2 separate regions of the Homo sapiens genome follow, and region 2 is linked to region 1. The links come from fine-mapping of genetic effects on gene expression. A gene starts in region 1. The other region holds a variant in brackets. All regions are shown on one strand. Distances are between the middles of the regions.

What was found.
Region 2: its variant is fine-mapped to the expression of PLSCR4 in lung (TOPMed, PIP 0.97).

The regions. Positions count from the first base shown.
Region 1 is chr3:146,242,706-146,258,601 of GRCh38, reverse strand. It overlaps PLSCR4 (phospholipid scramblase 4), which reads left to right and starts at 7,497. Exons shown (of 9, transcript NM_020353.3): 1 at 7,497-7,642. RefSeq lists enhancers at 404-1,392, 1,393-2,382.
Region 2 is chr3:146,191,151-146,207,046 of GRCh38, reverse strand. PLSCR4 (phospholipid scramblase 4) reads left to right here. Exons shown (of 9, transcript NM_020353.3): 4 at 286-521; 5 at 5,970-6,012; 6 at 7,008-7,234; 7 at 10,254-10,415; 8 at 11,765-11,923; 9 at 12,592-14,712. The coding sequence ends at 12,636. Among named protein-coding and RNA genes, the nearest start is that of PLOD2, 38 kb to the right of the region's middle. The variant A/G (reference allele first, on the strand shown) is at 7,073.

The sequences.
Region 1 (15,896 bases):
AATATTCTCTTTTGGGATAAAGGATACATGTACATTTAGTTTAATAAAAAAAATTTCTAACAGTTTGGCATGTCTGAAAATAAATTGCTTTCAAAAGTTATGAATTTGTGAGAGTTGGAGCTCCAATGATGATAAGTTAGCTTGGATTGCAATAATCTTTCCCTAGATAACAATAATAAACTCTGGGAAAATATAAAATAAAAACTATTTGAAGGCACTGGAGAACAATCAAAAGCTGACAGAAATTGTAAGGCATCTGACTGGTAATATTGTCTGGATATCTGTCCTCTCCAAATCTCATGTTGAAATGCGATTCCCAATGTTGAAAGTAGGGCTTAGTCGGTGATGATTGGATCATGAGGGTGGGTCGAGGGTAGGTCCCACCTCCTCATGAACGGTTTAGCACCATCTCCTTGATAAGTGTGTACTTACTCAGTTATTTCACATGAGATCTGGTTGTTTAAAAGAGTACGGGACTTCCCCCTTCTCTCTCTTGTTCCCTCATTCACCATGTGATGTGTCTGCCCCCGCTTTGCCTTTTGCCATGAGAAAAGGCTCTGGAGGCCTCACCAGCAGCCAAGAAGATGCAGGCACCATGTTTCCTGTACAGCCTGCAGAACTATGAGCCAATTAAATCTCTTTTCTTTATAATTCAGCCAGCTTCAGATATGTCTTTGGAGCAACACAAAAACATCATGTTGATACAGACTATTGGTCCCAGGAGTGCAGTATTGCTATAAAGATACCTGAAAATGTGGAAATGGCTTTGGAACTAGGTAATGGGCAGAGGCTGGAAGAGTTTAGAGGGTTCAGAACAAGACAGAAAGATGAGGGGAAGTTTGGAACTTCTTAAATGGTGAAATGGCTGTGATCAAAATGCTGATTAAAATATGGACAGTGAAGTCCAGACTGAGGAGGTCTCAGATGGAAATAAGGAATTTATTGGGAACAGGAGTGAAGGTAGCCCCCGTTACGCCCTCGCAAAGAACTTAGCTGCAGTGTGTCCATGACTTAGGGTTCTGTGGAAGTTTGAACTCAAGAGTAATGACCTAGGAGGCTATCTGGTGGAAGAAATTTCTAAGCAGCAAAGCATTCAAGATGTGGTCTGGCTGTTTCTAACAGTTTACCATCAGGTACTGGAGCAAAGAAGTGATTTAAAGTTGGAACTTAAATATAAAAGGGAAGCAAAGTTTAAACATTTGGAAAATTCAGAACCTGGCCATGTGGCTAAAAAGGGAAACGCATTTTCAAGAGAGAAATATATGCAGGTTGCAGAGCAGCAACTTGTTAGAGAGATTAGCATGACTAAAAGGGAACCAAGTGCTAATATCCAAGACAATGAGGAAAAGATCTAGCAGGCATTTGAGAAATCTCTATGGTAGACCCTCCCATCAAAGGTTCAGAGGCCCAGGCAGAAAAAATTGTTTAGTGGAGCAGGCTCATGGCCCTGCTGCCCTGTGCAACCTCTGGACATTGTTCCCCAAATCCTGGCCTCTCCAGCTGCTAGAGTTCAAAGAGCCTCTGGCATAGCTTGAGCCATTGCTTTGGAGGGGATAAGCCATAAGTCTTGGCAGCATCCATGTGGTGTTAAGTATGCAGGCCCATGGTATGCAAGTTTGAAGAAGACTTGGCAGCTTTCCACTCGATTTCAGAGGATGTATAAGAAAGCTTGGCTGCCCGGGCAGGAGCCTGCTACAGGGGCAGAGTCCTCACAGAGAATCTCTACTAGGACAGCACAGAGGGGAAATGTGGGGTTGGAGCCCCAACACAGAGGCCCCACGAGGGCACTACCTAATGGAGCTGTGGGAAATGTGGGGTTGGAGCCCCAACACAGAGTCCCCACGAGGGCACTACCTAATGGAGCTGTGGGGAGGGGGCTGCCAGCCTTCAGACCCCAGAATGGTAGAGCCACTGACAGCTTGCAACCTCATCCTGGAACCAAAACAGGCAACCAACTCCAACCTATGAGAGTAGCCATGGGGGCTACATCCTGGAATGCCACAGGGGTGGAGCTGCCCAAGGTGTTGGGAGCCCACTACTTGCATCAGTGTGCCCTGGATGTGGGACATGGAGTCAAAGGAGATTTTGGAGCTTTGAGATTCAATGACTGCTCTGTTGGGATGCAGACTTGTGTGGGGCCTATTGCCCCTTTCGTTTGGCCAATTTCTCCCTTTTGGAATGGGAATGTTTACCCAATGCCTGTACCACCACAGTATCTTGTAGGTAAATAACTTGATTTTAATCTCACTGTCATAGGTGGAAAAAAAAAACAACTCCATATGAAACTTTGGACTTGTGACTTGGAATTTGGGACTTTTGAGTAATACTGGAAAAAGTTATAACTTTGGGGAACTATTGTGAAGGCAATATTGTATTTTAAAATTTGAAAAGGACATAAGTTTTGAGGGGCAAGGAGTAGAATGATATGGTTTGGATATTTGTCCCCTCAAAATCTCCTGCTGAAATGTGATTCCCAATATTAGAGGTGGGGCCTGGTGGGAGGTGATTACATGATGAGGATGGGTCCCTGATGAATGGTTTAGACCAGCCCCTTACTGATAACTGACTTTTTGCTCAATTAATTCATGTGAGAACTTAAAGACTTTAAAAGAGTCTGGGACCTTTCCCTTTTCCCATGTGACATGCCTACTCCTCCTTTGCCTTCTTCCATGAGTAAGAACTCCCTGAGTCCTCCCCAGAAGCAGACCAGATTTAGGTGCTTCCTGTATAAGCTGCAGAACTGCGAGCCAACTAAATCACTATTCTTTTAAATTACCCAGCCTCAGGTATTTTTTTGTGGTGATGCAAAAATGTCTTAATTCAACTAGTGAAGAAGGGAATTACAATGACTGAGTGAGACCCACGCTTATAGACACTTTCCCTGTGGGTACTCCCAGTTCTCAGATGTAACGTAGCTAGAACTCAAGTAGGATGCATCAGAATTACTGAGTTGTGATATCGGTGTAGAGATTTCAGGCTACCAGGGTGCTTATAAATGAAGAGTAATCCCAGAAAGTAGGGAGACACAGAGACAATAATATTAATACCTGCCAATTAAAAGTCCTCAAATCCTTGACTGACCGTGGAACTGTGTGTCTATTGGGGACGCTCCAATGATGCCAGCAGAAAGGAGAAGGCAGCAGCTGAAAGGACTGGACAGAGATTTCAATTGCTGTATACAGCAAATGAAATACTGTTTGGAATCTGAGTAACACAAAGGATAGAGGAGCCTAGTAAAATCTTCAGGTATTCAATAGTCATGCCTTAAAGTATAAACCAATGGCTCCGGATGTTAAAGGTGATCAGCCCTCAAATGCCTGCCAGAGAATGCTTTCTCCTTAGAGGAAGAAGACATAACTCAGATATATTATTTGCAATGCCCTGTGCATAATAAAAAAGTAATATCCATTGTAAGAAAAAGAAAATCATGACTCATCATCCAAAAAAAAAAAAAAAAAAAAAACCAGCCCATAGAAATACATGACAAGGTGAAATACATGTTGATATAAAGTAGTAAAACAGTATGTTAGGGTGTTCTTGCATTGCTATAAAGGAATACTTGAGACTGAGTAATTTATAAAGAAAAGAGGTTTAATTGGTTCTGCAGGCTGTACAGGAAGCACTTGAGACTGGGTAATTTATAAAGAAAAGAGGTTTAATTGGCTCTGCAGGCTGTACAGGTTTAAATGGTTCTGCAGGCTGCACAGGAAGCACAGTGATACCATCTGCCTCTAGTGAGGCATCAAGAAGCTTACAATCACGGCAGAAAGCAAACGGGGAGCAGGTGTATTAATGGCAAGAGCTGGAGTGAGACAGAGAGGGGAGAGGACACACTCTTTTAAATAACCAGATCTCACAGGAACTACCAGAGCAAGAACACACTCATCACTAAGGCAATGGCACTAAGCCATTCACAGGAGATTCTCCCTTATAATCCAAACACCTCCCAACAGGCCACCTTTAACACTGGGGATTACATTTCAACATGAAATTTGGGAGGGACACAGATCCAAACCTTATCAAACAGTTATTATAAGTTAAAAAGTTAAGAAAATGATGGTCTTAGTGAATGAACAGATGTGAAATCTCATCAAAAGACATGGAAGCTGCACAAATGAACCAAATAGAAATACTAGCACTGAAAAGTGTTAATACTGTAATGGACTTAACAGTAGATTGAAATAAGGGTCAGCATATTTTTGAGACGGATCCATAGAAATTATTTAACTTAAAGAGAAAAAAATCAAAAAAATGTAAATAAAGTCTTGGTGAGCTGTGAGTCAGTATCATATGGTCCAACATACAATTAATTGAACTGAATTTCCAGAAGGAGAAGAGAGAGAAATGGGTATGGTGCAGTAAAGAAATAATGACTGCAAGTTTTTCAAATTTTGTGAATAATATCTACTTATGTATCTGTGAAACTCAGAAAACCACAGTAGAATACAGAAAGAAGCATACATCATAGACTAACTGCAGAAAAACCAATGATAAAAAGTTATTCTTAAAACCAACAATATGCATTCTGTCAGATAAAAATGGAGGTCAAAATTGTTGGGGAATAAAATAAAAAAAATCTGTACACCCAGAATTCTATAACCAGTAAAAATATCATTACAAAATTCATACAAAATAAAAACATTTTTAGATTTAAAAATCTAAAAAGATTTTGTCTGTAGCTGTTCTGCACTACAAGAAATACTAAAGGGACTAGGTATAGTGGCTCACACCTGTATCCCAGCACTTTGGTAGGTCAAGGCAGGCAGACTGCTTGAATCCAGGAGTTTTAGACCAGTCCATGTAACAAAGCCAAATCTTGTCTCCCCCCTCCAAAAAAAAAAAAAAAAATTAGCTGGGCATGGTGGCATGTGCCTGTAATCTCAGCTACTTGGGACGCTGAGGTGGAAGAATCACCTGAGCCCAGGAGGTCGAGGCCGCAGTGGGCTGAGGTTGTGCCACTGTACTCCAGCCTAGGCAACCAGAGTGAGACACTGTCTCAAAAATAACAAGAACTACTATAGGAAAGTCTCTAGCCTGAAGGTAAGTGATAATAGGTGAAATTAAGATCTATAAGAAAAAAAACGAGGAGCACAGGAAATTGTGTATATGTGGAAATATAGAAAAGCTATTTTCTTCTTTTAATTTCTGTAAAAGACAATGCACTAGTTAAGCAAAACTTAAAACATTTTGTTGTGTAAAGTCTATAATTAATGGGTATGTAAAATCTGATAGCATTTGCACATACAATTGAGGAACTGTAAAGTAATTATAAATTTCTTAACTTTATGTGAAGTGGTACATTATTAACTCTAAGTAGACTGTGGTAACCTAAGAACAACCAGTGAAAAGGAAATAACACGAAGAAATACACTTGGAGCAACAGAGCAACTAAAATGGGATTAGTATAAAAAGTAGTTAATTTGTCATCCCTCGAAATGTCCAGGTTGGAAAGTCATCAGATCAGGAAATTTCAGAAAAACAGGAAATTGAGTTCTTCTTCTTCCCCTCGAAAGTTGTGATTTGGGGTATATGACATACTTGATTTTATTTTAATCCCTCAAAGCAATATGTTTCACAAGACATGTTTTGCTCTTGAAATTTTTGGTATCTTCACGTGGCCACTGTGGATGTTTACATTCATAAGCTCAATTACTTGGCCTCTTTCATAAATTTTAAACAAAGGTAACATGCCGAGACCAGCTCAGTCGGGGAGACCCTAACCCAGCGGCGCTAGAGGAATTAAAGACACACACACAGAAATATAGAGGTGTCAAGTGGGAAATCAGGGGTGTCATAGCCTTCAGAGCTGACACCCCCGAACAGAGATTTACCCACGTATTAACAGCAAACCAGTCATTAGCATTGTTTCTATAGATGTTAAATTAACTAAAAGTATCCCTTAAGGGAAACGAAGGGATGGGCCGGATTAACTGCAGCAGGAACACGCCCTTAAGACACAGACCGCTCATGCTCATTGTTTGTGGCTTAACAATGCCTTTAAGCGGTTTTCGCCCTGAGCGGGCCAGGTGTTCCTCACCCTCACTCCCGTAAACCCACAACCTTCCAGCTTGGGCATTAGGGCCATTATGAACATGTTACAGTGCTGCAGAGATTTTGTTTATGGCCAGTCTTGGGGCCAGTTTATGGCCAGATTTTGGGGGGCTTGCTCCCAACAGTAACATATGCTATTATAATTTAGTTTCACCACCAGTTTCTTTGTTTTATGCTTTCAGTAAAACACTATGTCTGCATCTGAGAAATGTTCTGTGCAATTATTACTGAGAAGAACAGTATGAATTTTTTAATCTATTCTCACATGAATATTAACAAATAACACACATACAAAGAAAAATATAAAATTCTAGAACTCCACTCCCACATCCCTTCCCCTTTCCAACCTTCTCCCACAATGGGGTTCTGCCAAGTACTCCTCAGAGCTTAATCAAGCTTACTTCTGTCCAGTTCTGATTCTTTATAAGGTCAGAGGACCTTCAGTTCTCCCACTTCCTGTCAGTGTATTGTGCTTCTCTCCAAGCACCACCACAGAACTGAATCCCATTGGTCTGAAAGAAATATTTGTGCCTAACAGTAATAAGCAAATGGCATTTTTCTCCCAATGTCAGAAAACATGGGCAACCTGCTCCCTTTCCCCTTTATTGGCGTCTCTCCCGCCTTCCCTCCAAGATCAAATTGGCCTCCCCCAATTCTGTGGAAAAGAAAACAGAATTTCTGGGCCCTATGCCCAAGTGTTTCCAGCCAGCACGGCATTGCCAAGGCTAAATCACCAAGCCAAGGACCTGGGGGTGGGCGCAAATGCAAATCAAAAAGGCTCTTGAGGCCGGGTGCAGTGGCTCACGCCTGTAATCCCAGCACTTTTGGAGGCCGAGGCGGGCGGATCACGAGGTCAGGAGATCGAAACCATCCTGGCTAACACGGTGAAACCCCGTCTCTAGTAAAAAATACAAAAAATTAGCCGGGCGTGGTGGCGGGCGCCTGTAGTCCCAGCTGCTAGGGAGGCTGAGGCAGGAGAATGGCCTGAACCTGGGAGGCGGAGCTTGCAGTGAGCCGAGATCGCGCCACTGCACTCCAGCCTGGGCGACAGAGTGAGACTCCGTATCAAAAATAAAAATAAAAAAATAAAAAAGGCTCTTGAGAAAGAGGGGTTTCTTCATTTTCTCTCTAGGCGCAGTAATCTATGAACAAAGCTCCCTTTCCCAGGCCCTGCAACCTGCCCCTCTGATTGGAAGTGACCGTGGGCTGGCTTTTATCTTTTCTTTCACCTCTTATTAGAGTAGTGACAACTTATTTTCTTCATTTCTTCCTCCCCCTCGGCTTTTAGGTTTCAGCGGACTTCAGGGTGCCCCACCTCTTCCAGGAAGACGCTCCCCCGGGCTGGCGGCTCTCCCAGCGCGGGGCGGGGTCCGAGACGGGGAAGCCGCGCGCGGGGAAGGAGGGTCCAGGCGTGCCGGACCCGCCCCCAGAACCCGCGCCTAGCCCTCCCTTCCGCGCGCTTACTTTGTTTATAACTTGAAAAATCCTCTCCGTCTCCCTTCCCTGCCTCCTTTCCTTTCCCTTTCCTCTGCCAGTACAACTAGACCCGGCGTCTGGCGTCCCCGGTGCCCAGCATTCTGCGGGGCAGGCGGTGAGTGGGGCTGGACAGGCGGGCGCAGAGCAGGACAGGGTGGCGCGGGCGCCCGGGCTGCGGGGCCGAGGGCGTCGTCAGGGGAGGCCCGAGGCCGCGGTGCCTGCGGGCAGGCGCGGAGGTTGCGCGGCGTCCTGCGCTAGCAGTTCCCGGACACTGCGCTCGCGTCGCATCCTCAGGTGGTTGCAGAAGTTCCGTGGTGTCGGGCGCGCGTCTGCACTGCAGACGCAGAGGGTTTGGGAGCGAGCAGTTTCCTGCCCAGGGATGGGGGTCCTGGCTGCACTTCACGGGGGCGGCCCTTTCGTTTCGCTCTGCGTGACAGGTCTCGCTTGATTGGGTTTCTCATGGGTCTCTGGCGTTTCTACGGCGCGGCTCTCACGGACTCAGGCCAGGCCACTCGCAGGTAAAAACGCTATTTATAGTAACTTTTTAATTGCTCAGCGAGTGGAGGCGGTGACAGGAGAGAATCCCTCTCTCTTATTTCCAATTCTGGCAAACTGGGGCGATTTGGGGCTGTGCTTGATTTGTTTTTAAAAACGTTCATATTTAAAGACTTAGGATTTTATTTTGTGGCCTTATCTTCTCTTAGGATCTACAATTTAGTTTTTAATTTTATACTGCATTTAGAATGGAGCCACCAAAATAAGTACTTGTGAAGATATAATGCACCAAACTTGATACTGCTTAAAGGGGAATAGATTGCCTAATTTAAATTGCATTCTCCTGTAATAGTAATAGAACACAACCTCCATCTGTCTATCTGCTCTCATGGATAGCTGTGAAATACTAGCAGCATTTCCATTAAATTTGAAAAAGACAAGAATGCTAATCATTACACTCTGTGACATGGTTGTGAATTCTATGGGCGAGTGACAACAGGTAGGGGAACATATTATCACTTTATGCATGATGTGAGTGTATACCTTAATGTCCATAGGAAACACTGAAATTTGATGGGAAGCATAAGTGAATTTATCAAAGTTTCCAATTGCATCATACTTAATTTATAGAAGTCAGTTGATGTTTATACATAAACTAGATAATACAGTAAAATAAAGTAAAATTCAGTTTGGCATGAAATAACACACAATTGAGAAATTATTTTTAAGAAGATATAAAAAGGTATGTATGAGAATCCAATAAAATACATAACATTCTTCTAGGTAAAGATATCATTTCTCTAAAACAACGTATAAGTAGAATCCTAACTGAATATTTTTGTTACTGTTTTTAACTGTACTGTTTAGCTCATGTGGAAGAACAAACATATTAACGTTATGTATAATATATTACAAATAATAAAATACAAAATATATAATTATGTCTTATTTTATATATTATATATGATTTTAACATTTAATATTATACATACACACATATATATAGTGGAGACTTCTTCATATAATAAAAGGTGTTACAAAACTGTGGTGATTAAAAGACAGTGCAGTAGACCTACTACCAGATGTGTAAATGAAACTGAAGAGACATGGAAGAATAAAAGGAAAGCTGGCATTTGATAAGCATACATTTTAAATCACTGGGTGGGAAGAAGAAATAACATTTAATTGAATGTACTTGGACAAGCAGGAATTTGTTTGGGAAACCTAATAATAAAACTGGAACTTTTCCTCACTGTTAATAGACAAATGTAGTCTAGATGGCTTACTAGTTTAAATCTAAACATATGCAGCCTAAAAAGGGAAAAAGAAAGCCTGAATAGATATTTGTGCACATTGCATGTGGGAAAAGCATTTCTAAGCATAATACAAAAACCTAGACCCATTTAGGGACATGATTTTTATTAACATTTGCATCCCCCAAAAAAGATACAAACTGCGGACATTGTTAATAGAAAAAAAAAGATAATTTTGCTAATATACCTAGAAATCTTATTAATGACCTTCAAAATCAATGACCCAGTTAAGGATAAAAAGAGTCAACTCAAAGCAAAAGAAATGCAAATAATAAGCAGAGTGAATACTGTTAGCCACACTAATTATCCAAAACATATATGAAGTAAGACATCAATTTTTGCATTAATTTTACAAATTTTGAAAGTCTGATAACTTTAGGTGTTGTTGAAAATGCAGTGAGGAAAATATAATTTTACAAACTTTTAGTGGAAATGTGAATTGGTGAAGCTGTTTTAGGGTTAAAGCTGTTCAGATTTACAAATGTTCATTTACTTAACTGGAATTTATCCAGCAAAACATGCTCCCAAGTGTACAAATAAAAATCTCTGTCAAAGATGTTTAAAGTAGGATTGTTTACAATGTAGAAAACATGGATACAGCTCTGTAGCCATTGATTGGGAATTGGTTACATAATGTATGGTATATTCAAAGGTGGAATAATATACAGTTTAAAACATTGTAGCTCTAAATGTTCTAACTTGGAAATATGTCCAAAACATAAAGTTAAAACACAAAATGAAACAACAAGTTGAAACACTGTGTGTGTGTGTGTGTGTCTGTGTGTGTGTAGTGTAGTAATTATATTTTTGTAAATAATTTGGAATATAGGCTGAATTATATTGTGAGTAGTGATGTTTTACACACAGCCGAATTATATTATTATGAGTAGTGATGTTGTTTTACACATTTCTATAATGTATGCGTGTGTATAAGGAAAAATTGATAGTGATAGTAATTTATACAGAACATTGCCTTCTTGAATATATTAGCTGTCATTTACTACAGAAGAAATATATTTCACAAAACCTTTCATATTGTCTCATTTTTTTTCTTTTATAAGTGTCCTCTTTCAGCTGCTTCCTTTAAAATCCCCTTCCTTAATATTGATGTTTATGATGTTTATTGCAAGAACAGCAGTGAAGAATTTTGCTTGAGGGATTTCACAACCAGTTAACTTTTATAAACAAAAAATACAGCAATGTTCATACTCATATGTTCACCAGCATTGTGCTAAAATTCATTTTTATAGTACTCATTCTTCAGGATGAAAGAGATAGATATGCTAGTCCTTAAAAAGAAAAACATCTAAAGTTGGAAAAAAATTGTTTTTAATTGCATGGTAAGGCTGGGTGGCGGTAGCTCACGCCCGTTATCACAGTACTTTGAGAGGCAGGGGTGGGCAGATTGTTTTAGCCCAGGAGTTTGAGAGCAGCCTGGGAAACATGGCGATACCCCACCTCTAAAAAAATTTAAAAATTAGCCAGGCATGGTGGCACCCACCTGTAGTGCCAGCTGCTCAGGAGGCTGAGGTAGGACAATTGATTGAGCCTGGGAGGTCAAGGCTGCAGTGAGCCATTATCATGCCACTGCACTCCAGCATGGGCAACAGAAAGAGACCCTGCCTCAAAAATAAAACTGCATGACAAAAATGCAGTGAAGACAAATGATAAGTTTTGAAAAGATAATTTTAATATAAAATTTTAATACCTTTCATATAAAGAAGACAAATGAAAAGCTAACAAAAATGAACAAATGACAAACAGGCAGTTCACAGAAATAGAGTTGCAAATTGCTTTCAAACAAATAATAAAAGTGGCTCAGCCTCCTCATTATGAGATATATGGAAAATAAAACCAATTTTTTTTTTTTATATATCAGATTGACTACTACAAAAATGTTGATAAAATACTGTATTAGGAATGTAACTTTTTGTCTGGGGTCTAAATTGATTCAAATTCTTTAGAGTGCAGTTTGATAGTATCTTTAAAAATGTACAAAACTTTGATCCATCAGTTCTGCTTCCAATAATTTAATGCACAGATCCACAGGAAGAAAATATTTTTTTCAGCATTTTTGGTAATAGCCTAAATTTGGAAACGATTTAACTTGTTGTCATTAGGCAGCCAGTTAAATACATTATGTTGCAGCCATTAAAAAGAATGAGGTTATATGGACTGAAATGTAATTAACATCAAGACATTTTAATAAATGAAAAGAAAAAGACACAGAAAAGTATATAGATGATTGCCATTTTATAAAAACTGTGTGTATTAGTTTATATATGCTTAGAAAATCTATTGGAGGAAAAAAAATCTAATGTCTGTGGTTGCCTTTTCAAATGGGAAATGGGAATTGGAGTAGGTGGGATTTTTTTGTATAAATGTATTGTGTAAATGTATGCACTGCCGACTCCTTGAATTATATTTGTGTTTGTTTGCACATAACATCTGTTTTTTAAAAGTCTGTTTTCATAAATGTAAAGTTTCTTATCAAAGTGACTTAACTGTATGCAACATGACATCTTGTTTTACTACAATTTTAAATACTAAAAGACTAGCTGTAAAATGACACAATGAGGCGTTCTTGGTAATCATAGTTGGCATGGTAATGTTTCCTTAATGTCTTATATAAACATCATGAGAATATTGTTCTGATATTTTTCTACTCTAAATAACAAAAACATTTCCCTTTTGAAAGCTAAAAAGGAGACACCTGATATTCTCTTTAAACAATTTGAACTAAATTAATATATTTAATAAAGGTTATGTATGGACTGTGGCTATCAATTTGCTTTCATTTAATCTTATCTTTTATTTTATATTAAAGCCAAATAGCTAACCTCCAAGATCCTTCACACTTGCTAAAAAGAATGAAATATTCTACCATACACTTTTTCTTTTGAAGGAGTCATGATGTTAATAAAATAATAAATATATTGATATAGGTTATAAAAACAACACAATAAAAATCTTAGGTTTTGCCCTTGTAATTTGTTGAACATTAATCACTCCCTAAGTTTCTTCTAGAATTGATTTTATGCAAAGATACAATTAAATACATATATGTTAACATGTAATTATAATGAAGATACTGTGTATCTATGGGACATTCCTGCTGCAGCATATTTTATCAACATGGACCTAGGTTTATCTTTTGTGCAAGCCTGGAATTCGTTTCTCTAATTTCAGCCCATGTGACAGAAACTTACTAAGTTTACAAGATGTCTACAGAAATGACTGAATCCTTCAGTCATTGGACTTTAATCCACTCATATTGAGCCCACTGAACTATCCAGTTCCCTATAGCCAAGAAACCCATAAAAGTAATTAACACAGTCCACCATAGGAGCCAAGAAATTTGGCTTAAAGTCTATAAAGAGGATTGTACTTGGAAAGGTGTGCATAATATTTCCTCTTTGATGAACATGCAGGTCTTTTTAGTTACAGATTCACTACAAGAGAGTACATTGTCAGGTTTTAAAAATTATTTTAAAAACTCAGTTTATATAATTTATTATACATTTATTGTAGAAAATTTAAAGAGGAAATGTTTATATCTTAGCATGTTTCCTCCAGTTTCCATATTTTTTAAAAACATTGCTATCATTATAATTATCCAGATTATATGTTTAACATTTGAATGTAAACATTTAATGATTTTTACAAAACTGTTACTATATTTTTAAAGGAAAATTATTTTATCATAATGTTTCATGATAATGTGTTTACTTAACAATTGTGCTTGATATTTATGTAGTTTACAATCACTACTATTTTCGTTTTGCATTCCTTCTGTGAAAATGAGAATGTATCACTTAAAAATATTATATGGCATATTTTGGATTTATTTTGAATTTGGTATAGAGGAAATTTACTTGGGTTTACAAATGAGATTTGAGAAAAAATAGATATGTCTTATATTGGTAAACTGAACATTTGATTGAATGTATTATGATTCCTACAGCAGATAGGTTTTTATCTGAATGGGGTAAAATTTCATAGATCTGTAACTGAGGGGGTGTGTGTTGGGGCCAGGAGGGGATATATTAAAATCATCTGGGAAATGGCTTCCATTTTCTTTCCTTATCCATAGAAGCAATGATCCTTTTAAGCTTTATCATGAGACTGCAACAATTCGGTAACATCTTCATGCTTCACTTCTAACTCTTAGTTCTCTTGCTATTCTCTCACATCTGCAGGTACTTCATCCAATGAAGTCTTGAACCACGCAAAATCATCCAGGAGGGTTGGAATCAACTTCTTCCAAGCTCCTGTTAATATTTATATTTTGACTTCCTCCCATGAATAACAAAAGTTCTTAGTGGTATCTAAAATGGTGAATCCTTTTTAGAAAGTTTTCAATTTACGTTGCCTAGATTCATCAGAGGAATCTAGGCCTAGCTTTTGGCCTGTCTTTGCTTTCAGCATGCCTTCCTCATTAAGCTTAATCTTTTCCAGCTTTTTGACTTAAAGTGAGAGATGCACGAACCTTCTTTTCACTTGAATATTTAGAGGCATTTGTAGGCTTATTAATTGGCCTAATTTCAATATTGTTTTGTCTCAGGGAATAGGGAGGTCCTAGAATAAGGGGAGAGATGGGAGAATAGTTGCTCTGTGGAGCAGTCACAACAACACTTACTAAGTTCACCATCTTATATAGGCATGGTTCATGGGGTCCCAAAACAATTATAATAGTAACATCAAAGATCACTGATCATAGATCACCATAACAGATTGTTATGAAAAAGTCTGAAATATTGTGAGAATTACCAAAATTTGACAAAGAGACAAACTGAGAAGTTGCTGTTCTGCAAAATGGCACTGATAGACTCCTTGATACAAGGATGCCACAAACCCTCAATTTGTTTAAAAAAATGGAGTATCTGTGAATCACAGTATAGCAAAGCACAGTAAAACAAGGCATGCATGTACATAATGAGGTATCTTGAGAATGGGACCCAAGTAAACATGAAATTCATGTTCCATTATGTTTTAAACATATAGCCTGAAGATAATTTTATACAATATTTTTGATAATGTTGTGTATGAAACGTTTACGTACGTTGAACCATCAGAAAGCAAAGGTATCAGTATCTCAATCACCCATGTGGACAATCTGTGGTTATTTGACGTCACCATCATTCCTGACTCTAAATTCATTATGCTACTGATAAGTAATCATTTTCTTACATTACTCACAAATAAGTGCTTAACAGTAAAAAATAGGATGTATCATTAGTACAGTGAAAAGAGAATGCGTTCAGGGTAACTAAGCAGCACAGTAGTATCTCCAGAATGCCTGTGTCGGAAAGCCACCAATAAGCAATGGCAGGCTTTCATTCTTTACCTACAATGCTGTATTTTGATTACAAGGTTATCATTCACTGAATTTTATTATTTTAAGTGAGAAGAAATATCAGAAGTAGCCAAGTGACCAGCAAGTGTTTTCTCTACAAATGAGGAAGCATTCTGATGGATGACTTTTCAGAATGTTTCCTCTGGAGTCCGCTGTCTCATTAACAATGGTTTTTGTCTTAGAAGTCTCTGTTGATTTTACAGACTGACACAATTTCTTATTCTGTGATGAATGAATGCTCTTAGAGTCCTTCAGTAAACCCATCACATATTTTCACCATGTCATCTATAGGCACTTTGCAGTTTTAACAGTGTCCTCATCATCTTTCACTTGTGACATCATGTTGGTGCTGAAAGTTTTGGATTTTTGAGCATTTCAGATTTTGGACTTTTGGATTAGGGTTGCTTAGTCTATACAGCATTTTATGTGCCCGAACTCTGCATGAATATTATAATCTTTTCTTAAAGTTAGAGATTGGTTCATCCTTTTTGTTCATTTCTTTGTTTTCAAGAATAAATGACAACACAGTTTTTGTTTTGCTTTCTATTTTTTTGTTTTTCAAGAGTTTTGGAGCATAGTCAGGATCATGATGATAAGAAAGAGATGTATATATGTAACAAACCTGCATGTTGTGCACATGTACCCTAAAACTTAAAGTATAATAAAAAAAAAGATGTATACAGTTGGTAGAGCATATTGTTAGCAGGAGTTTGAGAAGAGGGGTTTCAGTCAATTGAGAGATCCCCATGGAAGAAGCAGGATGAAATACAGATAACAGAACTAATTCTTACAAATTTTTTTTCTGAAAATGGTCCAAGTGTCAATTAGGAACTTTCCAGGTTTGATTTGAAACCCCCACCACAGAATTTGTTTTTCCTCCCTGAGAGATTGATGGGTTACTGTTTTGGGATTAAAGCCTTTGGGGGCTTTCTCTGGTGGAGAAATAGTTCAGACAAAAGGTAGTGGATCCATTAGATGGCTAATATAAAAGTGGACAATGTATTTTCCAGTTGCATGAGTGTTTACCATAAAGGCAGACATCTTGGGGCATAGGGTTCTTTATTTTGGGATCCTCTTGGGCCCTGTAGCCTTTACAACTGTAAAGACATAAACCTGTTTGCCTTTCGTAAGGAATTTTCCCACTGTAGCCATTCTAAGTTACTTTTGCTAAGGTTCTCCCATTCGTCTCGAAAAGCACAGGTTCT
Region 2 (15,896 bases), 52 kb after region 1:
AAGCTAACATGTTTCTTCTAATGTTTCAAAACTTATTTTTGTACCATTGAAATGGGAATAATTATCTTATAAGCTTTAAGAGGATTAAATGAATTAATATGTAAATAAGTCTCCCTAATACATCGTTGGGTCATATGCAACCATGATCTGCATAAAGTGTGAATCAAAAATGGAACAAGTTGTTATATTTAAGTGGATGTCGTGTGATCTATTTCATCGCATGTAAAAAGTTATGCTAACTTTAGTGTTAATAATATATAACACTTTGATTTCTTTTGAACACAGGACCCCCTGGAACAGCTGTCCCTCCACCTACTGGCTACCCAGGAGGCTTGCCTATGGGATACTACAGTCCACAGCAACCCAGTACCTTCCCTTTGTACCAGCCAGTTGGTGGTATCCATCCTGTCCGGTATCAGCCTGGCAAATATCCTATGCCAAATCAGTCTGTTCCAATAACATGGATGCCAGGGCCAACTCCTATGGCAAACTGCCCTCCTGGTCTGGAATACTTAGTTCAGGTACTCCATGAAAATACAAATTATTTTCTTATGAAATGTGACCATAGGGATCCAACAAAGAGAGAAAAAAAGCAGACCAGAGTGAATAAAGGAGATGGGTCAGTGATGACAGATGCCATTTGTGAAACTATAAGAACAGTGATACCAGTTTCAGAAATATGAAGGGGAAACAGCAAGTACAAGGATGTTTATAGTGGGATGAGTATGTTTTTCATAAGGATTTATGTTGAACTTCAAGGCATTCAAGATGTTTTCTTGAAAGAATTGTACAAATGGAAATAGAAAAACTATCATAGAGGATAGTTGTGTTATTTGCTTAGAAGTAAACAGTTAACATCAAAAAAAGCACAAAAGAGAACAAAACACAATACAGTGGGTAAATTACTGAGTGCCTTAGCCCATTGCTTTTTACCACCACCCATCATTTTCATTAGCTACTCTTGTCACCCCCAAAAACAAACAATATAAATAAAAATAATGGACCCTACAAAGAATATTGCTTCAGGCCAAGTTCCAGAGACCCCCTTCATACAACACAATAACTCCCTAATTAACATCTATGTAGATATTCTGCTGCCACCAGGACATGCAGATCAAAAACTGGGGTAATATGGGAAGTTTGTGCACAAATAGTTTTGTTTAAAAACCCATGTCTGAAACTAAAAAACCTGCTTAATGAAAATAAGATAAAGCTGGCAGAGTAGACGCCTTTTATTTGTGGCGTTGATTCCTGCGGTTTCAGTTACCAATGGTCAACCAGGTTCCAAAAATATTAAATGGAAAATTCTAGAAATAAACCATTCATAAATTTTAAATTTATTCTGAGTAGCATGATGAAATCTTGCACAGTCCTGCTGTGTTCTGCCTGGCACATATATCATTCCTTTGTCCAGTGTATCCACGCTGTAGATGTTATCCATAGTATACAGACCCAGAGTCACATCTTGGTTATCAGATTGACTTACAGTATCACAGTGCTTGCATTGAAGTAACTTATTTTACTTAATTATGTCTCCAAAGCACAAGAGTAGTAATGCTGGGAATTTGGATATGTCAAGGAAAGACCAAAGAGAGGCCATAAGGTCTTCCTTTCCATGTAAAGGTGAAGGTTTTTTACTTAATAATAAAAAAATTCCTATGCTAAGGTTACTAAGATCTATAGTAAAATTAATATGTCCATGAAATTGTAAAGAAGAAAAGAAAAATTTGTGCATAGTATATACAGGATTTGGTACAATCTGTGGTTTCAGGTATCCACTGAGGGCTTGGAAAGTATCCCCTGAGGATAAGAGGGAGACTACTTTATTGGAGATTCCATAGAACCTTCTGAATCTTTTTTGTTGTTGTTTATAGAAAAAGGAAGTGCTGAAATACATTATAAAGAAGAAACTTCCCAATTTAATACTTACCTCCCCAGGTCAACAGCCAAGTATTTCCTCGAGTTCTGTCATTTCTCTTTTCAATTCTGTATATTGACAGGGACCCTGATAATCTTGTGTGCTGAAAACTATTTGTATAATATTATAACATTGGTGTATAGAAGTCAATACAGTTGGATCAGGAAAATTTGGATTTTACAAAAGCCAAAATTTATCCTAAATTATTATTTGGACAAAATTTTGACAAAATGCAAAACTCATTCAGGTGAAGTGCTAGAGTAAACATCTACATTATTTCAGAAGATAATAAAATGTTTGTAGCTTATCAAGTTTAGAAAGTCTCATTTCTATACTTGGTGATAAATACAGAAGTTGTTCTTGGGAATCTAACATCTTCTACAGTCAATTCTCTTTTCAAATTGTATAGCTTTGTTTATTTAAATATTAAAAACTTGTTTCTTAATTTCTTTTATGATTCTGACAGAGGTTAATTTAACGTATTTTATGAGTTTTCCCTTTTAGGAATATTTAGAGTTAAAGAAATAAGTGAAAAAATAAACAAAACACAGGTTTGGACCCAGGCAAACCTGGTTTTTTAATTCTGTCCTACTCTCTAGTAACTCAAAAACTTTGATAAAATTTCTAACCTCTTGCTGCTTGAATTTTATCATCTATAAAATAGTATTATCAATACCTACCTTACCAGATTGTTAGGAGAATTTTTAATGAGATAAGGGTCACAATGTGCCTAATATTTTTGACATAAAGGGCCGTCCCAATGGATGAAAGCTATGTGGCTGTTATTAGCTTAAATACCTTCTTATGTGTGAATGCAAGACATAGAGCCAATCTTTTTCCTCTATCTACCCTAGTCTTTTTGAGATCTCACATGAAGATTACATGAATCTTTATCAAGGTTCCCAAGAATCCTAAAACATCCAAATTAGCACGATTATATTATTTTCAGAGTCTTGGCTTTACCAGTGACTTTACCAATTTGTCAAAGAACTACCCCTTAACAGACACATATTATTGAGTTCCAGGAAGGGACACAATAATATTGAAATTAGGCCAGTTAATAATCCTGTGATGGCCTCTGAGTGTTCAAGTGAAAGAAACAATTGCACATCTCTCACTGTAAATAAGAAAGCTGGAAATGATTTAGCTTAATGAGGAAGGCATGTTGAAAGTTGAGATAGGCCAAAAGCTAGTCTTCTAGCACCAGTTAGCCAAGCTGTGAATGCAAAGGAAAAGTTCTTGAAGGAAATTGAAAGTGATATTACTCCAATGAACATATGAATGGTGAAAAGTAAAAGAGCCTAATTGCTGATATGGAGAAAGTTTTAGTGGTCTAGAAAGAAGATCAAACCAGTCACAACATTTCCTTAAGCCAAAGCATAATTCAGAGCAAAGCCCTATCTCTCCTAAATTCTATGTAGGCTGAGAAAGGTGAGGAAGCTACAGAAAAAAAAAGTTTGAAGCTGGCAGAGGTTGGCTCACAAGGCTTAAGGGGGGAAAAAAGGCACTTTTGTAACATAGAAGTGCAAGGTGAAGCAGCAAGTCCTGATGTAGAAGCTGCAGTAAGTTTTTCAGAAGATCCTAACTATAACAAGATCATTGATGAAGGTGACTCTGCTAAACAACAGATTTTGAATATAGATGCAACAGCCTTCTGTTGGAAGAAGATGCCTTCTAGGACTTTCATAGCTAAAAAGTAGAAGTCAACGCCTGACGTGAAAACTTCAAAGGACAGACTGACTTCCCTGTTAGGGTCTCTTGCAAAACATTACTACTCACTGACAACACATCTGGTCACCCAAGAGCTCTGATGGAGACGTATAAGGAGATTAATGTTGTTTTAATGCCTGCTAACACAACATCCATTCTGCAGCCCATGGGTCAAAGTATAATTTCAATTTACAAGTCTTATTGTTAAAAAAATGAATTTCGTTAGGCTATAGTTGCCATAGATGGTGTCATTTCTCAGACAGATCTGGGCAAAATAAATTGAAAACCATGTGGAAAGGATTCACCATTCTAGATGCCAATAAGGACATTCATGATTCATGGGAAGAGGTCAAAATATCAGCATTAACAGGTGTTTGGGAGAAGCTGATTGCCACTTTTATGATGATTTTGAAGGGTTCAAGATTTCAGTGGAGGAAGTAATTTCAGATATGATGGAAACAGCAAGAGAACTAGAATTTGAAGTGGAACCTGCAGATGTGACTGAATTACTGTAACTCATGATACAACTTTAACAGATGAGCACTTGCTTCTTATGTATAAGCAAAGAAAGTGCTTCCTTGAGATGAAATTTACTCCTGGTGAGAATTCTGTGAACATTGTTGAAATGACAAAGGTTTTAGAATACTACACAAATATAATTGATAAAGCAGTGGCAGTTTTTAGGTGGATTGACTCCAATTTTGAAGGAAGTTCTACTGTGGTAAAGTACTAAAAAGAACATCATGTGCTACAAGGAAATCTTTCATGCAGAGAAGAGTCAGTCAATTGATATGGCAAACTTCATTATCTTTTGTTAAGAAATTGCTGCCGCCAACCTGGGCTTCAGCAATCACCACCCTGACCATTTAGCAATCATTAACATAGAGACAAGACCCTCTACCAGCAAGAGGATTGTGACTAGCTGAAGTCTCAGATGATTGTTAGCAGTTTTTAGCAATAAAGTTTTTTAAAATTAAGATATATACTTCTTTTAGATTAATACTCTTACACACACTGTAGACTACATTATAGTGTAAACATAATTTTAGATTCAATAAGAAAATAAAACATTCATGTCACTCACTTTCTTACAATAATTGCTTTATTGCCTTGGTCTGGAACCAAACTTGTAGTATCTTCAGAGTATGCCTGTAGTTTATATTTTTACTTTTCACTTCTAGATTTTAATACCCTACTTTTCTAAAATGGACTATAAACCATTTTAGTAGTCACTTTTGGTATTTTATGAGGCATATTTATGTCTCCTTATGTCATTGTGTTTTTATGTAAGAAAAAGGTTTTAATTAAGCATAGATTGTGCCCTTTGTACCCTCCTGTAATTAATCACACCATAAAACATTCGTGTTTAGGTACATTATTTTAATTTCATGTATTACTGCATTCATATATTCTTCATTAATTAATGTACTTAACCAATGTTTGGTGAAATATGGCACTTCAGGCAGTGTTCTGGGCTCAGGGATTAGGAATGGTCTAATGGTCTAAATGATGTAAAATTATACAAATATAATCAGTGTGTCCTCAAGAAGGTTTCTTTTCTTCTGCTAGAATGTTCTCACATGTAACAGATAATGTGCCCATCAAACTGCTCATCTTTAGAATGATTCCTAAGATAGAAATTTCTCTAATGGTATATACCCAGCCGTCCTTTTCATGGGTTGCCATCTAACAATGTTTCCTTTCTCTTCCCCTAATCCTGTTCACATGCTTCCTAGTGTAATAGACCCTTCCCTTATTAAAGTGTGCACTTGGGGAAGACCCTGGCCTTTGTAGATCAAGTGAATGCAAGTCAGTTTATAAACCTCTGCTGGAGGTACCTGTAAAATAATATAAAATGGGGACACTCCATGTGAGGTTCACCCTGGCTTGTTTGTTCTCCTTAAGCCACTGAGAGACTTCCCTTTTCTATGGCTGGTCCGTGTTAATCGTTCTGAACTTAACTAAACAACTACAGGCTATGGATGACATGTAGAGAGACCAGTGAGTAGGGACTTATCTAGGAACAATCTATAAGCACAGCTTCTTCTGATGTGATTACTACAGCAAGTAGATGTTTTGTTTTTCTGATATAGCAGACAACTTTTTTAAAGTGGTACTGAAAGAAAGTGTTTTTCTAATATGGACAACTCTGCTAATATCCATCCGATCAGATGCAGATAAGCTAATTTCAGTTGGTAAAATTTTTTTGATTCTATTGACTTTCAAAAATATATTTTGGTATCAATTGATGCATTTTAATATCTATTTCATCAGTTTATTTTACAGTGGTATTTTAGTTCTGTTATTTCTGTCTTCTGATTGCTTTGTTTTATCCCAACAGTTGGACAACATACATGTTCTTCAGCATTTTGAGCCTCTGGAAAGTATGTATAATTTTTGTAGTGCTCAGCAGTATTTTAATCAGATGGAAATTTGCATTATCCAATATCTAGTTCCTTCTTTATATTGATCATGTTTTAGTGGCTCAAAGAAAAAAAAACTGCTCTATTACCCTATCTTCAAGAAAGTAATAAAGTGAATTATTTTGTATAATTTTATCCTTCTATACATCATATAATCATAAGCTCTTAGATTTGAAAAGGGCTTACATTTTATCTGGTCAATAGCCCTACACTTTACCCATTGTTCCTACTCCACATTTACCTTTCAAAGATGAGTAAAAAAAGGAGCCAAGAGACTAAATGAGTTAGCCAGGGACACCACAGTCAGCTAATCACCTCCAGATCAGGAAATAGCATTTAAACCACAGTCAGCTAATCAGTGGCAGAGCTGGAAATAGAATCCAAATCTGCCAAATCGTAGTGCAGTGCCCTCGCTTTGGAAGTAAGAAGAAAAGATCTCAGTCAAAATGATGCCTGTTCTCAGTTCATCCTACAAGAGTACTGACCCTCACTAAACCAGCTGTGCACATTCATTTGGCCACCACATAGGGCCTTTGACTTTTCTTGGTTTGTTCTCTTGTTTGTAATTAGTAATGACCCTACTCCTCCAAGCATGTTTCGTGAACTGATTAATTAATGGTCAAATGTATAATTTTTTTAAATGGTTTTATAATTAAAGTTTTCTGAATTCAGATACTCCAGGAATTGAAACAAAAGGGTTGTTTCAATCTTTTCTTTTATGTAAAATTTTTTTAATGTTTACACTGAACTTCTTAAAAGAAATGTTTTAAATTTTCACAATTGCTTAAATACTTTTAGATAATATGATTTTTGGGGTACTCTAATCAATTCTACATATTTCACCTGAAACTTTAAAAAAGCTATGTTGCTTTAAGCCCTTAAGAAATACTAAACAAGGACTTTCTGAGGCCCATTTTAAATGTTTCTAATATAGACTTACTCATTTTATTTTTTAGTGATGACATGTTTTGAAACTAATAATAGATATGATATTAAAAACAACTCAGACCAGATGGTTTAC[A/G]TTGTAACCGAAGACACAGATGACTTTACCAGGAATGCCTATCGGACACTAAGGCCCTTCGTCCTCCGGGTCACTGATTGTATGGGCCGAGAAATCATGACAATGCAGAGACCCTTCAGATGCACCTGCTGTTGCTTCTGTTGCCCCTCTGCCAGACAAGAGGTCAGAGAATGGAAGTCTGATCCACAGCTTGCTTCTGATCTAACTCTTCATGGCATAGTGTGCTCCTTCCACTACATAGGGAGGATATTCCCTGGCCCTGCCAGCCAGAATGGAAGAAGATAGTGGGGAGGGAGGAAACCAAATTGTCTCGCCTAAGGAAAATCATAGAGGATTTTTTCTTTTTGGTTACTACTTTTTAGTGCTTAAATAAGTGGGTCAAGCACAATTGACATATGTGTAGTCAATAATTATGATTCCATCAGTTGCATCTACTTAATTAGAAATTTACCTACCACATTTATCTAAATGTACGTACCTATCACTAGATAAAGCAATGCTAAAGATAAACATATGCTTTTAGAATTGGAAGGGACTTAAATATGTTTAGAGTACCCATCACAACGCATACCTTGCCACAGATAAAGAGTGGCTCAAAATTACTAAATGGCTGAGGTGTTACATTTGGCTAAGGACAGGGCTGGAACTAGAATACAGATGTGCTGAGTTACAGTGTGGTTACTCATTATCTTGCATTTCTAAGCAAGTTATTTTCTGTAGGGAAAAGAGAAGCGGTTTTGGAGAGAAACCAAACAGAGTCTGAATTCTAGATATGTCACCTACTTAAATCTGTAAAATTTAATTAACCTGTTTGAGCCTTAGTGTTCTTATACATAAACTGGGTAGTATAATACATCATAGGATTACTGAAATACTTAAATGATCTGTTAAATAACATCCTTTACTAAATATTAATTTTTTACAACCGTCTCCAGGCCTTATTTACCTGTAAAATGGAAATATTAATAGTACCTATCGGATAGGATGATCATTTTAGGGATTAAGTCAATTCTTCTGCACAGTTCCTAGCAAATAGTATAGTACTCAATGAATATTTTCTCTTTTCAGAAATCTTACTCCTTTGTTATTATTGTCTTTGTGATAACAGCCTTATATGTGAAGTGAATACCTATTATCCTTGATCCTTTTGGATATAGTAGGCATTTATCTTCATATTTATGAGTTAGATTTTTTTTTAATCAAAGCCTATAGATACAGCCTTCTGAAATTATAGGAAGCCAGAATAAAGGAAAGCAAATCAAAATTACAGCTGGGCAGGATGGTTTACACCTGTAATTCCAACACTTTGAGAGGCTGAGGTGGGAGGATCACTTGAGGCCAGGAGTTTGAGATCAGCCTGGGCAACATGGTAAAACCCCATCTCTACAAAAATAAAAAATAAAAAAATTAGCCAGGCCTGGTGATGTGTGTCTGTGGTCCCAGCTACTTGGGTGACTAAGGTAGGAGGATCACTTGAGCCCAGGATATCGAGGCTGCAGTGACCTGTGATTACACCACTTCACTCCAGCCTGGGTGACAGAGAAAGACCCTTACTCCTAAAAAAAATTACAAGCCTAGTCCAATTTATGACACTTTTGTCTCATAACTTTACCTAGGTTTTTCTTCAGATTTCTCCAGTTTTACTTGTATTAATTTGTGTGTGTGTGTATACATTTAGTTTGTGCAGTTTTATCATTTGTGTAGATTCCTGTTTCCATCAGCACAATACAAATCCCAAACAGTTCCATCATCACCAAAGTCCTCTTTTATTACCATATCCACATTCCTCCCTCCTCTTTGTCCCTAGCCCTTCAGAACCACTAATCTGTTCTCTATGTTTATAATCTTGTCATTTCGAGAGTGTTATTTTAGCAGAATCATATAGTATGTAACTTTTCAGGATTGGTCTTTTTCATCCACAGTAATTAACTGGAGATTCGTACAAGCTGTTACCACTAGTTCATTCCCTTTTATGGCTGAGTAGTATACCATGGTATGAATTTTTAAGGAATTTATTTTTGTACATTTTTATTTTTATCTCATAGGTTTAAACTTATATGAGAGCTCTATGATACTCTCAAATTTATATATTTGTATATAGGTGTGAATTTATACATATGAACAATAATACCTTAATTTAATAATTTATGAAGCTGTGCAGTCCTGTTCCATGTCCTGGGTAATCCTTTCCCCAAATTCTTATGAAAGTACATGTAACACCAGAGAAATAGTCAATAAAATTTTCACTTTGGGCTTTTACCAAATAATTTAATCTTTATGACTCATTATTATTAAACAGGAAGATCTTAATTATTCACAAAATAATATTGTTGAAGATAAATAGCTAAAAACAGGGTAGTGGACAATATTTTAAAACTTTTAAAAAATGGCTTTATAAACCCATGTACACATTTTGTTGTTTTCACAATATATAATTTTCAAAATGCCTCTTTTTTGTTTTCTGTTATAATTTTCATGTCTGAGATTTGATTTTACCCAATTTCAAATCTAAAAAGTCAGCTTAACTGTTTAATAGACTGAGTCAGAAGAAATGAGACTCCTAGGAAGGAGACAGAGGACCGTTTTACAGCACAGCAAGCAGCATAAGTGTGTAGGTTCCCCTCATCTCCAAGTTCTGAGGTTGACTTGGAGAAGCCCATTGCTTCCTCATTGTAAGCCTTTTATTTTTTACTTATCCTGAGAAAATTGTTCTTTCTGATGGAGAAGCAGTGTAGTGTAGTATCAACAGTAAGCCTTGAAACCAAGCCAACTTATCTCTGTGCCACTTCCTAGTTCCATGTTTTAGAAAGTGTTTAACACTTGCAAGCCTCAGTTTCCTCATCTGTAAAATGGAGATTAAAATACTTATATTTTTCAGAGTTATAAATATCAGCTGTTTATGCAGCTTGCCAACACTGAACTTGGACAACTGGCCATTATGTAACAAGCCCTAATTAAGCCTGCTGTCTATCCCAGAGGCAAACATGACCTCATCCGTTAAAGCTTTTCACTGAAATCCAACCTGAAGAATGGCCTGGGTGAGATGGAAGGCTGTCACTCCCAACAATAATTTCCCTAGTCTTTGAATGAGTGAGGACACATCTAGATTGTGTATGTGCGTATGTGTAAGTGTATGTGTATGCATGTAGCATCCTAACTTCTGTCACTGTTTTGTTTGCAGCTGGAGGTGCAGTGTCCTCCTGGTGTCACCATTGGCTTTGTTGCGGAACATTGGAACCTGTGCAGGGCGGTGTACAGCATCCAAAATGAGAAGAAAGAAAATGTGATGAGAGTTCGTGGGCCATGCTCAACCTATGGCTGTGGTTCAGATTCTGTTTTTGAGGTGAAACTATGTAAAAATAGTGTTTCTGATATTTTTCCTACTCATATTAACAGACCATGGAAAGATCTGGTTGTAGACATTTTTTTTTAATGTGAATGAATAACATAGTGTTAGGAAAGAGTTAATTAACCAGTTGACATCAAAAGATTTTAAAGTTATTGTGAGTAGATTGAGGTTTTCCAAAATGAAAGCTTTTTTTATGACTTCAGTACTTGATAAAAATAAAAAGAAATCATTTAATACATTAAATATTCTGAGAGTAAATAGCTTGACCTAATTCATCTATTCTATTGTTGGCTATATGTAATTAACCATTTTTTTCCCTAGATTTCTAGGCTGGGAATATAGGCTCTAAGTAATGCAAGTGCCCAACATGTCACAGAACATACCAAGTACTCCTTAGGCTGTGGAAATACTTATTTGCAGGATACAAGTCTGTCAGCATCCTCAAGAAATCGGATAACACTAACAATATGGATAAAACTTATAATAGTTTTAACATTTTTTTCAATAAAAAGAAAAATTATTTTGTTTTGCCTTTATCTCACTGGCTACAAAATGCTGGTTCATTACCCTACGAGTCTGACACAGGAAATTCCTAGAAATATTTCCTAGGCTTCTTAAAGAATATTTTTTGAATGCCTTGCAATTAGGCAAGATTCATCATCTTCAAAACTGCTTGCTCATATGTTTCCTATGATACTCAAGAAACTTTCCTTAGTTCTTATTTTCTATTACTGTATCGTTAAGCATTGCTTATTTATTAAAAGAGCAATGTAGATAAGCCAGATTGCTAGGGCAGGGTGTGTGTGATCATTCCCATTGCCAAGTGACATTAGAAGTTAGTATTTGGATATTTTCCCTGTGACAAGTGCCAGGTTTCCCCTTTTAGAAACTGAAGCTCGTTGGTATCTGGCCGTATATTAAGAAGACAAGGTGAATTTCACTCACAAAAACTTAAGTGATGTGAAGTGAACAGTACTTGTTTCCCGGTTTTTGCTCATAGGTTTCCCTAGTTTGGAAGTGACTCTCTCCCAATTCCCACCCTTTACTATGTTGAGAAGAATTTCATAATCAGTTCAAATCATACCTCTTCTTAAAAGGTCCCTTAATAACTCATTTGAAGATGAAGAAAGAGCAGCAGTCTGAGACTTTTAAGAATACCCTAGCTCAGTTATTAACCAGTTGCAAGGCAGTTAACCCTTTTTGGCCATTATTTTCTCATTTCAAATTATATAATTACATAGTCTTTTTCTGCATTGTATTTATGTTATCTGAACATAAGCAGAACATTAAAACATGCTTCAATGCGTTTCAATCATCATAAAGGCACATTCTTGTCATTCCAGGTCAAATCCCTTGATGGCATATCCAACATCGGCAGTATTATCCGGAAGTGGAATGGTTTGTTATCAGCAATGGCAGATGCTGACCATTTTGACATTCACTTCCCACTAGACCTGGATGTGAAGATGAAAGCCATGATTTTTGGAGCTTGCTTCCTCATTGTAAGCCTTCTATTTTTGAGTTATCCTGAGAGAGTTGTTCTTTCTGATGGAGAAGCAGTATAGTGTAGTATAAAGAATAAGCCTTGAAACCAATCCAACTTATCTCTGTGCCACTTACTAGTTACATGGTTTAGAAAGTGTTTACACTTGAAAGCCTCAGTTTCCTCATCTGTAAAATGGAGATTAAAATACTTATAATTTTCAGGGTTATGAATGTTAGCTATCATGGTAAAATGACCAGGGGAGTACTTAGATAACATTAGGTATCCATTGGGTATAATTATCATCATTGCATGTTATTTGTCATTGTCACTACTTAAAAATGCCTAGCCTATGATTTCTTAGTGAAATAACTCTAAAGTGGATGTCCCATTCCTCCTTCCTTTCTGCCTGTCACTGTACTCTTTGGGGTTGTCCAATCCTGAGATTATGAAGTTTTTCCTCTTTTTAATGATGAGATTCAGTTAATTGGCACTTCAAATGGAAAACTAACAGTTCCAAATTTGTAACTGCTGCTCTTCACAGTAGGTGCTCTTCATAAATATTTCCCTAAATTTATGTATTTTAACTGGAATGGGGGAATCCCCTAATAAATTACAAAGGATAATACCGCATGCATTATACCTAATTATCTATATATCTACATATAATTCTTTTTCCAATTTCAGGACTTCATGTATTTTGAAAGATCTCCACCACAACGTTCAAGATAGAGAGACACAGCAAGCCATCAACTATGGTTAATTTTGAAAAATGGAAAAGTTGGATTGGGCTTACAGTCAGCACTCAGTTATTTGCAAGTGTATTTCTTTGCTTTGTAGAGTATTTTTATTGGGTGTTAACTTTGACAGCTGAGAGTGGGCTTGCAAGAACACAATCTAAAAGTGTGTTTCAATTGAGTATCTCTCTAGTAGAATAGGAGTTCATCCTGAAAAGCTGTGACTCATTAACCCAGTAAACATATACAAAGTAAGCTTAAAACACTATAAACATGAGATAAGGGAAAATGAATCCAGAGTTCTCATATTAATAGGTAGTGAAACAATAAGGCTTTTTAGAGCAGACTTTGTTGGCATAAAATAACCTGGCTTCTATCCCTAACCCTTTCCTACCTTTCCTCTCCGTCAACATGTCCTCATACTGAAGACAAACTTGTTTCAATGATAGTCTTCATTTTTAAAAACAAAAAGGCAGGCAGACAGAAATAATGATGTTTTCTTGCACTAAGAAGGTACTACTTGTACACATATATCAAAACCTCATTCTGCAAAGTTTTTGAAGGTTTCAATGGGAAATTTGATTTTATTACAAAATAAAACATTTTTTAATGTTAAAGTTTATATATTCCATGCTTGTTTTCTCATTCACTGGCATGGATGATCAGGAGCTGCCTATATATGAAGGCAGAATCAGACTATCAGGAAAGGAGCTGGCCAGGGCCACAGCCAGTCAAGATCTCTGAGCAACTTAGAGACATTGGTGTCATTATATGAAGCTTGCATTTAATACATTTATACATAATACATTTGTACATTTAATTCATAACGTCTCTTGGTCACAGATGCCTTATATATAAAATAAGTTGCCAGATCTCTAAGATTGCCTAGTACACCTTTGTATCTCATTTGATGTGATACCCAGAAGAGATCATTGTTTTTTGTTTTTGTTTTTGTTTTTTTCAAGAAGATCCTTCGTGATCACCATGCTGTTCTCATGGTAAGAACTGGAGTTATGTTTTTAAATTTGGAAATATGACATTTTATGTAGCACTTTATAAAAAGTGAAAGCGACAAATTCCACCGCTGCTTAATACTGCTTTGCTTCTTTTTATTGACATGATAGATAAATATGTATCTACACAGAGTAATAATAATAAAACACAGTAAACATTCTATTTCTCTATGGTCTACAGCATGCCAGTAAATAATATGTAGGACCAATAATAAATTATCAATTACACATTTTTGTGTTAACTAATTAAAAGCATAGTGTATAAGTGAGTACACTCTAATTAACTTGCTTCTGTTGCACTTTAGTTTTCTACCTGCATATGGACTGCATTTTTTTTTTTTAACACAGTCAGTATGTAGAATGGGATGTATTCTTCTGCTGCTGCTTATTAAATAAAGAAAGCCTGAGTGTTCTTAGATGGGGTTATTCTGAGATGAGGGTCTTAGCCTACAGTTCTTTTTGAAATGAAAGGTGCTTTGTTTTTTAATTATATTCATCTTTTCAGGGTAAATTTGTTTTTCTGAGTTTCTCGTAATGCTCATTTTTACATGCTGCTACTAGCTTTTTTTTTTAAAAAAAGTAAAAGTTGCTGCTTTCTAAAATATTAATTGCCTTATATTTGAAAGTGCCATTGCAATCGTAAGTAGACTATGTATTTCCTATAATGATGTCTGATATTTAAATAGGAAATCAGACAAACAATATTCAGAAAGTTTAAGCATATAAACTTTTTATTTTTAACTTGCCTAAATCCCTGTATTCCAAAACCTGCTGCATCATAATAAATATATCTATATATATTTAGCATAAGACGTGATATTTTTAATTTCTTTTTTAAAAAATTATATTTGTCTCTTAGAGTTAAAATTTTCTTTATATAATATTGTCATATGTCATAGTTTTAATACAATTCACATGATTTCTATGTTTCTTAATGATATTTTGTTGTGTAAAATTGATCGGATTGATTAAAAAACAAATTCTCTGGAATTTGTGCGTTCATGCTTTTTCGTATTCTTTATGGCTTTTAAATAAATATACAATGGTTAATAGTAAAACACTGTTTTATTTTTTGACTTTGAATCTTCAAATACTTTTTTCACAGGGATTTTGAAGTAATTTTTATTGATTATTAGGTTTATTCAAGGCCCTTGCTTTCTAATATAAATTTTAAATTATTTTTAATTTATATATTTAATATATATTTAATTTATATATTTTTAATTATATATATTTATATATAATATATATAATTTATATATAATATATATTATATATATTTTTATAATATATAAAAATATAATTTATATATTTTTAATTTAATAAATTTTAAATTATTAAAGTCAGCCGGGCACGGTGGCTCACACCTGTAATCCCAGCACTTTGGGAGGCCGAGGCGGGCGGATCACGAGGTCAGGAGATCGAGACCACGGTGAAACCCCGTCTCTACTAAAAAAAATACAAAAAAAAATTAGCCGGGCGCGGTGGCGGGCGCCTGTAGTTCCAGCTACTCGGGAGGCTGAGGCAGGAGAATGGCGTGAACGCAGGAGGCGGAGCTTGCAGTGAGCCGAGATCGCGCCACTGCACTCCAGCCTGGGCGACAGAGCAAGACTCCGTCTCAAAAAAAAAAAAAAAAAAAAAAAAAAAAAAAAAATATATATATATATATATATATATATATATATATAAAAAGTCATTTCTGTAGTGTTGCTTAGTGGTAACTAGCTTTCTTATATGACCAAGTTATTTGTAAATGCTTATTTCTAATCCTCCTAAGATACATTTAAATTTCAAGTATAATTTCAATGTCAGTATATCATGAAGGAAAATTGCTAGAATTTGTAACCATCAGTGAAGAATGCATTTTAAACATTTTTTCTAAATGACCATTTTTTCCAGAAATTATACAAAAATCAGGTTACAAGACTTATTTTTTCTGACCAACTAGATATTAAATCAAATTCAGGTATAGAATAATCAGAGTGATTCTAGAGTATGGTATATTGATCCTGTTGGAGCAGCTGGCTGCTTTTCAGTCTTTTTTTCCCCCAGTGTTCAAGGTCGGATTTAATTTATATTGAAAGAAGCAAGCTTGGAAAACCCATAAGAAGTCTGGATTTAATAAACTAATATCAAACTCATCTGTTTGGCTAGTGATAGCTAATGTTAAAAATGGATCTTTTTCCATAACTTCACAGAATGCATTTCCCATTTTCCTCTAGGCCTCTTAAATTGTAAATCT